3 linked regions of the Homo sapiens genome follow. The protein of the gene in region 1 purifies or fractionates together with the protein of each later gene. This does not show direct contact. Each region holds a gene or a part of one and is shown in the gene's direction. Other genes may lie near its edges. The genes, in order: PABPN1L, MKRN2 and RBM45.

Region 1 (3,749 bases):
GACTGGGTGCAGGAGCCTGGGTTCCCAGGCTGTGGCAGCCTCCATGTCCACCTGCTCCCCGAGCCCCCAGCCCAAGATGGAGGAAGGGCCGCCCTGCGTGGGTGGTGCATGGTGCAGCAGTGCAGCTCCAGCCTAGGCCACGCCCTGTCTCTCTCTCCTCCCCCAGTCCCAAATTCCCAGGAATCCCAGCCCCACTGGCTAAACACCGGGGTGCAGTCACAGAGAGGATGGCCTCGGCCTGGGGGTAGGAGCTGTGCAGGGGGCCCCGTCTCCCACCACCAATGGCAGGGGTAAGAGCCATGCATGACCCCCTGGCCCCGAGTCCTTCACAGAGTGGGTGGGAGACGGCAGCACTGGAGATGAAGGCCAGAGCAGACTCCAGCAGCCGCGGTGGCAGGTGCAGAGGGAGGCGCAAGGGCGGACACGGGTCACCTCCTGCTGCAACCCTGCATGGGTGAAGCCAGGTGCAGACACCACCGGATGCCCACTGAATTCCGCCACAGTAACTCACGCCGTCACTCCCCACGGAGACCCCGCCCCACAATAACTCACGCCGTCACTCCCCACGGAGCCCCCGCCCCACAGCAGAATAATTCTGGCCTCATGGAAGTGGCTCCCACCTAAAAGATGACCCAGACCAGGTGCGGTGCTCACGCCTGTAATCCCAGCACTTCGGGAGGCCGAGTCGGGCGGATCACCTGAGGTCAGGAGTTCGAGACCAGCCTGGGCAACATGGTGAAACCCTGTCTCTACTAAAAAGACAAAAAAAATTAGCTGGGCATGGTGGCAGGTGCCTGTAATCCCAGCTACTCAGGAGGCTGAGGCAGGAGAATCACCCGAACCTGGGAGGCAAAGGTTGCCGTGAGCCGAGATCGCGCCACCGCACTCCAGACTTGGCAACAAAGCAAGACTCCTGCCTAAAAAAAAAAGAAAAAAAAAAAAAAGGCCCAGAATAAGGGTTAGGGAGGCAAGGGTCCCTGGGGACTCCATGGGGGTCAGGATGCAGAGACAGCTGTTGCTGCCCCTCCTCTGGGCCCAGGACCCCGCCCCAACCTGCCTCGGCCCTCTCATCCCATGCACCTGCTCTCGGTCTCTGCTCAGGCCCTGCCTCTCCTGGTCGGAAGCCACCTCTCCAGCCTGCTTGGTCCCTGGTACTAGAAGAAACCACTCCCGTGTTCCCACTTAGATCGAGTGTTCATGCAGTGTGGCGTTCGTGCCGTGTGGATGCTGCTGAGGTGTGAACCCTGTCACAGACCAAGGCTCCAGTGAGCCACAGCGTGGCCAGGCGGAAGCAGAAGAGACCGGTGACCCCCACTCAACTCAGCCTCTCCTTCCTCCAGGGAGAGTGTCCTGGAGGTACCTGTCCGAGTGACAGGGAAGGGGCGGGGCCGGGAGCCAAGGCTGGAAGCTCAGCCCCACTCAGCCTTTGCAAATGCTCTAGTGGGAGCAGCTGGCCTCAGGGGAGGGCTTAAAACTCCAGGAGAGCCTGGGCAGGTGCGGACGCGAGGGGAGTGGAGGGGAGGCCTCGCCTGGCCCACCTTCCTCCTGCCCCTCTACCATGTGGCCCTTCCCGAGCCGCTCTCTCTTCCCACCCCCGACTCAGGCCTGGCTCCAGACGGTCTCCTCAGACCCTGAGGCCCAGGGCTGGGGGGCCTGGAACGAGACCAAGGAGATTCTGGGGCCAGAGGGTGGGGAAGGGAAGGAGGAGAAAGAGGAGGAAGAGGATGCAGAGGAAGACCAGGATGGGGATGCAGGCTTTCTGCTGTCTCTGCTGGAGCAAGAGAACCTGGCTGAGTGCCCATTGCCTGACCAGGTAACAGCTGTGTGGAGGCCCTGGGGATCTCAGGGGACCTGGGGCACAGGGGCTGGTGGAGACACGGGGTCTGGGTGACGGATGGCTGCAGCTGACTTAGGAGGGGAGAGGGCCATTGCCCACCTGCCTGGACGAAGGTGGCAAGGAGACCCCCCGCCCCCAGCCACACAGACTGCAGGGTCAAGGTGGCCTCTCTCGCCTGGGGAAGGGCCCTTGAGGTGCGGTTTCGGGGGCTTCTCTGCAGGGGCGAGTTCATCCCCAGCCAGCTGCCCCAGGAAGGAGTGTCCCTGTCCAGAGAAGGGCTGCCCCTTGGGGCTGTGACCCTCTGCTGGAGCTGGCAGGCCACACACCCACCTTCCTTGAGCAGAGCCTGCAGGCTGCCTGCCCGGCTCAGGGCCGTGTGTCGGCAGGAGCTGGAGGCCATCAAGATGAAGGTGTGTGCCATGGAGCAGGCCGAGGGGACGCCACGGCCTCCAGGAGTGCAGCAACAGGCCGAGGAAGAGGAGGGCACCGCGGCCGGGCAGCTGCTGAGCCCTGAGACCGTGGGTAGGAACCAAGGGCACAGGCCGCCCCCCACTGAGCAAGGGTCCCACAGTTTCCATTAAGGTTGGGCCTGGCAGGCTCCAAGGTGTCACCTCCCCTATAAGCCTGGGCGACCTTCCCCGTGAGAGGAGTGAGGAAGGAACCAAGGGCCTGCGGGCCTGAGCTGTGTTCTCCGCAGGCTGCCCCCTCTCTGGGACCCCCGAGGAGAAGGTGGAGGCTGACCACAGATCCGTCTACGTGGGCAACGTGAGTGGTGGGCGGGGTGAAGGGGCAGGCAGCGAATGGGGCCCCATCTCTACCAGAGGGTCTGGCGCCCGGCCATGGGCCAGGCAGCCTTGCTGGGAAGGGGGTCTGACCCTGGGGGCAGCCCCGTCACCTTGAGGAAACACTGGCCTGGGCACATATTCCAGTTTTTCAACATGAGCTGGAATTCGGGGTTGCACATGAAATCTCCACTTTTGAGAAGCTTTTTAAAAGGCTCCAGCTCTCCAGAAGGAAGCGCTCCATACGAGATATCCTTTCCTCTCTTCCCTCCAACCCCAGCGGGGGTGTGGGGTGGAGGCCTGGGGCCATCCCCGCCACGGGGCCCAGCCTTGGGGTTTCTTTCCTCACCTCTAACAAGAAGGCCCCGAGTCAGGGCCAGGCGTCTCCCTCACATGCTGGTCTGGGCCTGGGTGCAGGTGGACTACGGGGGCTCCGCCGAGGAGCTGGAGGCCCACTTCAGCCGCTGTGGGGAGGTCCACCGAGTCACGATCCTGTGTGACAAGTTCTCTGGACACCCCAAGGGGTCAGTGTGGGGCCTGGTGGGGGCACTGGCCATGCGGACAGGGCCCAGCCTCACCCCTCCCCTCCCTGCCCCTCCCCTCAGTTATGCCTACATAGAGTTTGCCACCAAGGGCTCCGTGCAGGCCGCCGTGGAGCTGGACCAGAGCCTCTTCCGGGGCCGGGTCATCAAGGTGCGCCGGTGCTCCCCAGGTCCAGGAACATGAGCGCAGAGGGGCTGGCCCACTGGCCCTGGGACACACAGCAGCCCCAGCTGGCTCCTCTCTGCACAGCGTGTCTCAGGCACGGTGCTTGGCTGGGCCTGGACAGGATGTGGCGGGACCCTCGGACCTGAAGCTGGGTTTGGTCTGCCAGTGGCATGGTGGGGAAGTGTCCCCTCTCGGGCGGGAGCCCCCTCTGCAGGGGTGCTGGCCGTGACCCCCCCCTCTGCAGGGGTGCTGGCCGTGACCCCCCCCTCTGCAGGGGTGCTGGCCGTGACGGGGTGTCATATGACAGCTATGGTAGGCAAAGGCAGGGAACCCTGTAGGCCCGAATGGTATCCTGAGCCGGGCAGGACCCCATGCTCCGGGGTGGTGGGGGCTGCGGGGGCTGTGAGCTGGGTCTCGGCTGC
Region 2 (3,649 bases), on another chromosome or scaffold:
TCTTCGTATGTCTAGTAATTTTAGATTTTATCCTTGACATTGTAAATATTACATTGTAGAGAGACTTAGGATTCTGTTATGGTTTATCTGTAAAGTGATGATTTTTTTTTTTTTGAGACGGAGTTTCACTCTTGTTGCCCAGGCTGGAGTGCAGTGGCACAATCTCGGCTCACTGCAACCTCTGCCTCTCGGGTTCAAGCGATTCTCCTGCCTCAGCCTCCCGAGTAGCAGGGATTACAGGCATGCACCACTGCACCTGGCCAATTTTTTGTATTTTTAGTAGAAACGGGGTTTCACCATGTTAGCCTGGCTGGTCTCAAACTCCTGACCTCAGGTGATCCGCCCACCTCGGCCTCCCAAAGTGCTGGGATTACAGGCATGAGCCACTGCGCCTGGCCAAGTGTTGCTGTTTTTAACAGGCAGGTAAATTGTTTGAACTCAAACCCAGGTAGCAGTTCAGATCTCAGTTCTGGTTTTGCATTCGTAGCTGACTTTGTCGCATTCCTGTGTGGTTTGGGAGTTAGTCAGATTTGGGCAGAGTTTATACACAGCCTTTGAGCACTTTTTCACAGGCCCCTTACTTTGTGGGATTGCTTCCTCACTTTCCAATGGCTGTGATTTCCTTGAACTCTTGTCTTTTAGTTCTTCAGGCCAGAAAGATTGGATTTCCCCTTGGAGTTTTAGCCACCCCATGTGGTTATGATTTTGGCCTGCTCCAGGATAAGAGCTACTTCTTTTTTTTTTTTTTTTTTTTTTTTTGGAGATGGAGTCTTGCTTTGTAGCCCAGGCTGGAGTGCAGTGGCACAGTCTCAGCTCACTGCCACCTCCGCCTTCCAGGTTCAAGCACTTCTGCCTCAGCCTCCCAAGAAGGTGGGACTACAGGCGCATGCCGCCACGCCTGGCTAATTTTTGTATTTTAGTAGAGACAGGGTTTCACTGTGTTTCCCAGGCTGGTCTTGAACTCCTGAGCTCAGGCAATCCACCTGCCTCGGCCTCCCAAAATGCTGGGATTACAGATGTGAGCCACAAAAGCTACCTTTTTTAAAAAAGGTAACTTAGCCTTTGCCATTGCTATTCTTCTTTGTGTTTACTCCTCCAAAGAATCTAACTGCGTTTGTTCATTCTCTGGTGCCTTCAGGTCTTCTTGAAATATTTGTGTTAAGACTTATCTGCAGGAGGGTTGGGTATGGCAGGCGTTTACTTGTCATACTAAAAGTGAAACTATGCATTACCTTTTTTAATGGTTCCTTTATGTTGCATATTAGTTTACTAAAGCTTGATTTTTTTTTTTTTTTTTTTTTTACCATTTTTTCCTCATACAATCTTCCTGTGTGTCCACAAGAGGGCAAGGCGTGGCAAGCAGAGGGGTCCCAGCTTGTAGAAAAGGGCCCCAGCCTGTAGAAAAGGGTCCCAGCCTGTAGAAAGGGGCTCTGCTGAAAAGCAGTCTGGAGATTGTTATTGCTATTTGGATCTTTCCTTGCTTTGCTTTCCTTTAATGACTGTGTTTTTTGCAATCCACAAACATTTACTGAGTACTCACTATGGGTCAGGTACCTTCTAGCTAAGCACCACTGGGGGATGTAGAGATTAGTAAGACAATTTCTTTTTTCTTTCGAGTCTCGCTCTGTCACCCAGGCTGGCAGTGGCATGATTTCAGCTCACTGCAACCTCCGCCTCCAGGGTTCAAGTGATTCTTCTGCCTCAGCCTCCCGAGTAGCTGGGATTACAGGTGTGCGCCACGACACCCAGCTAATTTTTGTATTTTTTTAGTAGGGATGGGGTTTCGCCATGTTGGCCAGGCTGGTCTTGAACTCCTGGCCTCAGATGATCTACCCACCTCAGCTTCCCAAAGTGCTAGGATTATAGGTGTGAGCCACTGTGCCCCGCCAAGTAAGACAACTTCATGGGAAACTGCAAAAGGGCAATTATGATACAGGTTTGCTGGTGACCAGTTCTTCATGAGGGACCATCTATCACAACAGAGAAAGCACTTGGATCCACCGGGGGCTGCCAGGGGAAGCAGCATGGGAGCCTGAACCATGAAGCAGGAAGCACCTGTCTGTAGGGGGAAGTGATGGAAGGACATGGGCACAGAAGGGTGTAGGTTTTGTGTCTGGGGGACACTGGGAGTGGCTCCTGGCATTGAAACAGGTGTGTAGAAGGATGTGGTGGGACCTACAGACTGGAATCTAAGGGACACTTGAATCCCAGTGTGACCATGGTCTTTAAGAACAGGTTGGGGCCAGGCGCAGTGGCTTATGCCTGTAATCCCAGCACTTTGGGAGGCTGAGGAGGGCAGATTGCTTAAGTCCAGGGGAGACATAGGGAGACCTCATCTCTTTAAAGAAAAAAAAAAGGTTGGGAAGCTCCTCCGTGCTGCTCTGAAGGTGGAAACTGGTGGGAGTGGGAGGGAGGCCAGTGAGGAAGTGGCCCTGGCAGGCAGGCCCCAGAGGCTTCCACAAGTGTGGGAACCCAAAGGAAGGGGAGATTGGGAAGTGATTTGTAAACAGAATGAACACAGTTGGGTGTGAGAGCCGAGGACACAGAGTGAGTCAGAGTGAACTGGAGGCTTTTGGCCTTGGTGACCAGATAAGCCTGGGGGAGGAAAAAGAGTAATATTCTTGTGAGAGTGGGGGACCAGTATATAATGTGTTTGACCTGATCGAGTTCATAGCCAGTGTGCTAGGATGCTCTGGAGTTGTCCAGCAGGCTCTGGTGAGAGCAAACTGCTCACGGTCATTTGAAGTCCGCTCAGAACTCCAGGCAAGCAGGGGCCTGGAGGATGTGTCGTCCACACACCTGCTCTCCAGCCACCTGTGCTCAAATCAGATCAGCTGGCCAGGGAGCTTGTTCTCTCTCCCCCCACCCTACCCCCCCGCCACCACCCCCAGTGAGACGAAGTCTCACTCTGTCTCCCAGGCTGGAGTGCAGTGGCACAATCTTGGCTCACTGCAGCCTCCACCTCCTGGGTTCAAGCAATTCTCCTGCCTCAGCCTCAGCCTCCCGAGTAGCTGGGATTACAGGTGCCAGCCACCACACCCAGCTCATTTGTGTATTTTTAGTAGAGATGGGGTTTCGCTGTGTTGGCCAGGCTGGTCTCAAACTCCTGACCTCAAGTGATCCACCCACCTTGGCCTCCCAAAATGCTGGAATTACAGGTGTGAGCCACCACACCCGGCCAGAGGGCTTTTCTTTATGCTGCTATGAAGCCGTCCTCAGAGAACTTCACCACCGGCCTGCGGCCATCCCATCTGACAAGACGGAAAACCACTGGATTCAGGAGCCTCCTTTCCCTGTTCTTGTCTCCCGCTGTCACACACCCCAGCTGCCCCTGACAGCAGCGTGCCCTTTCTGTTGTTTGGCTTTATTTCTGTGACTTTCCCCTTCCTCTGTACTCCGAGATGGCCCTCTGGATTCTTGGGTATCTTTTTTTTTTTAACTTCAGTTTGGGATCCTTTATGATTGGATAAACCAGAGTTCATTTGAGCAAAATGGGAATTCATTTGATTGAGTTTCCTTGGGCAGGGTTCTTAACATAGAGGTCTGTGGGGAGAATGGTAGAATTAAGAGAGAGGGAAAACATTTTGAACTGTTTGGTCACTGTATGCTGTAGACCCATGTTTTATGCATTGAAAAACACTGTTCAGAG
Region 3 (3,649 bases), on another chromosome or scaffold:
CTCTAGTGTCTTTGCATATACTTAAAGCTTCCCTATTTGTATTTCCCTATTTACCATTTATTACTGATATCAGCCACAAGACTCTAGTGGGCCATTTCCATGTTACTCAATAGTTGTACTCATATGGTGCTTGACATATAGTATAGATTTATTGAAGGAATAACTAGAAGTAGACTATAAAGGGATATGTCTCTAACACTGTGGTTTTCTTGGTTGCTGCTTCCTACTGTGGAATTTCATAAGTTCCAGTTTTCTCATGCTTTAATGATACAGAGCCCCCTTTACCAGCAGTGGATCAGAGACCAAGATATAGAGACCCCTTTAAAGGAAAAAGAAACAAACAATGCAAGTGCCCTTGTTTATGGTGTTTTAATTAATTGTATTACGTTTCTTCAAATTACTCTGGCTAAAAATAAATGCAAAAGTAGAAATACATTTGGGAAAAACACAATGCAGAGATTGGTATTATCTCATAAAAAAAAGTCATTGCAGGCCCAGCACAGTGGCTCACACCTGTAATCCCAGCACTTTGGAAGGTCAAAGTGGGAGGATCACTTGAGCCCAGGAATTCATGACCATCCTGGACAACATAGCAAGACCTTGTCTCTACAAATATTAAAAAATTAGCTGGGTGTGGTGGTGTGTGCCTGTGGTCCCAGCTACTTGGGAGGCTGAGGTGGGAGGATCACTTGAGCCTAGAATGTTGAGACTGCCGTGAGCCATGATCACACCACTGCACTGCAGCCTGCTTTTTTTTTTCTTTGAGACCCTGTCTCAAAGATTAAAAAAAAGTCATTGCAAGAATAATTGCTTTTGAAAAAATTTAAGAAATGGGAAAATAGTTGACATTATTTTATTTTGGGAGTTTTGTTTGTTTCTTAGGTTTTCATTGCTCAGTCCCGATCATCTGGAAGTCACCGAGATGTTGAAGATGAAGAACTTACAAGAATCTTTGTTATGATACCAAAGTCCTACACAGAAGAAGATCTGCGGGAAAAATTTAAGGTATTTATTCTAATCAGCTAGCATATGTGATAACTCATAGTCCTGCATAGGTTGTATGGGTACTAAATCTGAAATGTTGTTGGAATAAGGTCAATAGAGTAGTCTTGGGGAATTACATAACTGCTTTCATCAATTTCAATCTACTCTTTAAATATTAAACCTAGCATAAATTAGTTTTTAAAATTAAAGAATATATAAAAGCTGGAAAATAGTAATGGTAGTCTCTCCCTACTTTATTGTGAAAGTAGAGATTCGCAGAAATGAAGCATAAAGCTCAGAAACTTTTAAGTAAAGTCACACAACTAGTAGGTGGTAGAGCTATGATTTAAACCCAGGCTGTCGGAGTCTGGAGCCTGCTCTTGGTCTTTAAAATTTCAAAGCACGCTTTTATCACTCCCCTCTATTGCCTGGCATGTAGAGGCGAATCAGGCAGACCTGAGTGTGTGAACTGTATTATCTAGTATTGAGAACGGGCCTATGGTGTGTTGACATGGTACTCATTCACAGAAAGGCTTATTCTTTGAAGAGTTTTTGTCCTAAAATTGGGCCTTTGAAGGAATTATATTTAAAGAAGAAAACGTAAATATAGCTCTGACCTATATAAGTGAAATTTGAGGATAATTTTATGTCTTTTTAGCCATTAACTTATGCAGTGATGAGCTTTCACACAAATTATTAAAAAGCAATTTTTTAATTGTTTTGAATTGTAGTTTTTTATCTTTTTTCTACTAATCCTCCCATGAATTGGGTGGCAACAAGCAAGAAAGAAAACAAGCAGTAAAAAGTAATTTTCAAACTTTCTCTCCTACCCCAATTGAGAATTCAATGAAATACTTCAAAAATAACAAATACCAAAAACGTATATTTTATACATCCTCCAGTAGTAAGGAAAATGTTTTTTACCTTAAATATTTATAAATTTTTCTTTTCCTGAATGAACAAATATAACACTTTAATGTATAGTAATTAAGTTGCTAATTGATTACATAAGAATTTATAAAATAAATAATAAATACCAATTATATTCCATATTTCTTTGAACATTGAAAGTAAACACTACTGCATGTTTCTCAGAATAGTAACTTTCTGAGTGAACCAGCATATTTTAGAAATACCCTTTGAAAAGCACTCCTTCAAAAGAATACACAATCATTTATGTTCCTGTTAGAAGACAGACAAGTAATAATAGCTAATGTTCTTTGAGTATGTTCCAAGCCCCATGTAAGCACTTCACATGTTTTACTTCAGTTAACCCTTAAACAACCCTGTGAGGTAGATACTACTGCTAGCCTCTTTAATAAAGAGGTAGGCACAGAGAGAATAAGTAAACTGCCTAATTAATGAGTGGTTGATTCAGGATTTCAATCTAGAAAGTTTAATTCCAGAGCTCTGGCTCTTAACCACTGTTGAGCAAGACTTTGGAGCTATCCAGACCATGTACAAATTCTTACTCTTCTGTGACTTTGTCCCTCTTTGATTTCTCTAAAGCCCAGCTTCCTTATCTATGAAATAAGCATATTTGCAAATACAAATATGCAATATCTGCATATTTTATACTGCCTATTTCTTTGTTTGCATGCAAGGGTCACATATAAACAAATTTTTAGTTCTGAAATACTCTGTTCAATTAATTTTAAGTCCCCTAAAATCATGTCTTTTAACTCTCTTAGGTGTATGGAGATATCGAGTATTGCAGCATTATTAAGAATAAAGTGACTGGAGAAAGTAAAGGTTTGGGCTACGTACGATACTTAAAACCATCACAAGCTGCCCAAGCAATAGAAAACTGTGATCGAAGTAAGGATGTGTTTAACATTGTTAAAAACTTTTGTAAAAAATTCTGATTATTCTAAATAGCTGAATTTAATATTAGTTTTTGCTAATAACTGTATCTGCTAATGTAATTTTAGCAGTGGGTATTTAAATATTTACAGTCCAAGGAAGAAAAATATTTTGGGGTTATGATTAAACATTCATTGAGGCACTATCTTGAAGAAATAAGAGCAACTACATTAACTTAGTAAGTGAAATGCATACTTTGGGTATTATTTTTATAGGTTTTTAGGGTTTTTTAAGTGTATTTTAGAATTTTAAGTATTAAAAACTTGACTTACCTTTTCAAGGTTTTTAAAATATTCTTTATATTTGTTTATATTTGATCTACATCCCAAAGACTATAAAGTATAACTAATAAACCTATAGGTTAAGGGTAAGATTTATAAGATGTGCTAACATAGGTAACTGATATAGATAGGGTTAATTTCAAGCTAGAGTGACATGAATGTGATCTTCTGATGTTGCTGTATATATAAAGAATAAGAATTTTAAAGATGTCAAAGAGAATATTCTTTGTTGGTATACTTCTAGTTAGGTATATTGACCTTTAGAAATGATATGTAGAGTAATTAAATTACTGGATTTTAGGACATTATAAAAATATATACTTACTGGAAAGAATTACTGTTAATCAGTAGAATTCTTAGATACCCCTAAGGTACATACCCAGATTTTCTCTTAGATCCTTCTAAATTTCTCATTTAGCTAGCAGTAATTGAGTACCTGCAGTATACTGATCAATATGCTAAGTAGAGGGATACAGATGAAGTATATGGCAGCCCTCACATTTAAGGAATTTATAGCTGTA

Evidence for each region.
Region 2: the proteins of PABPN1L (region 1) and MKRN2 purify together in Homo sapiens (affinity purification with mass spectrometry; one large-scale study listed by BioGRID and IntAct). This does not show direct contact.
Region 3: the proteins of PABPN1L (region 1) and RBM45 purify together in Homo sapiens (affinity purification with mass spectrometry; one large-scale study listed by BioGRID and IntAct). This does not show direct contact.

The regions. Positions count from the first base shown.
Region 1 is NC_000016.10:88,864,416-88,868,164, reverse strand, and holds the start of PABPN1L (embryonic polyadenylate-binding protein 2), read left to right. Parts: upstream 1-1,504; 5' UTR 1,505-1,558; coding exon 1,559-1,813; intron 1,814-2,223; coding exon 2,224-2,359; intron 2,360-2,534; coding exon 2,535-2,602; intron 2,603-3,036; coding exon 3,037-3,143; intron 3,144-3,224; coding exon 3,225-3,312; intron 3,313-3,749. UniProt on the Homo sapiens protein: Binds the poly(A) tail of mRNA.
Region 2 is NC_000003.12:12,577,579-12,581,227, forward strand, and holds part of MKRN2 (E3 ubiquitin-protein ligase makorin-2), read left to right. Parts: intron 1-3,649. UniProt on the Homo sapiens protein: E3 ubiquitin ligase catalyzing the covalent attachment of ubiquitin moieties onto substrate proteins.
Region 3 is NC_000002.12:178,115,380-178,119,028, forward strand, and holds part of RBM45 (RNA-binding protein 45), read left to right. Parts: intron 1-882; coding exon 883-1,005; intron 1,006-2,675; coding exon 2,676-2,802; intron 2,803-3,649. UniProt on the Homo sapiens protein: RNA-binding protein with binding specificity for poly(C). May play an important role in neural development.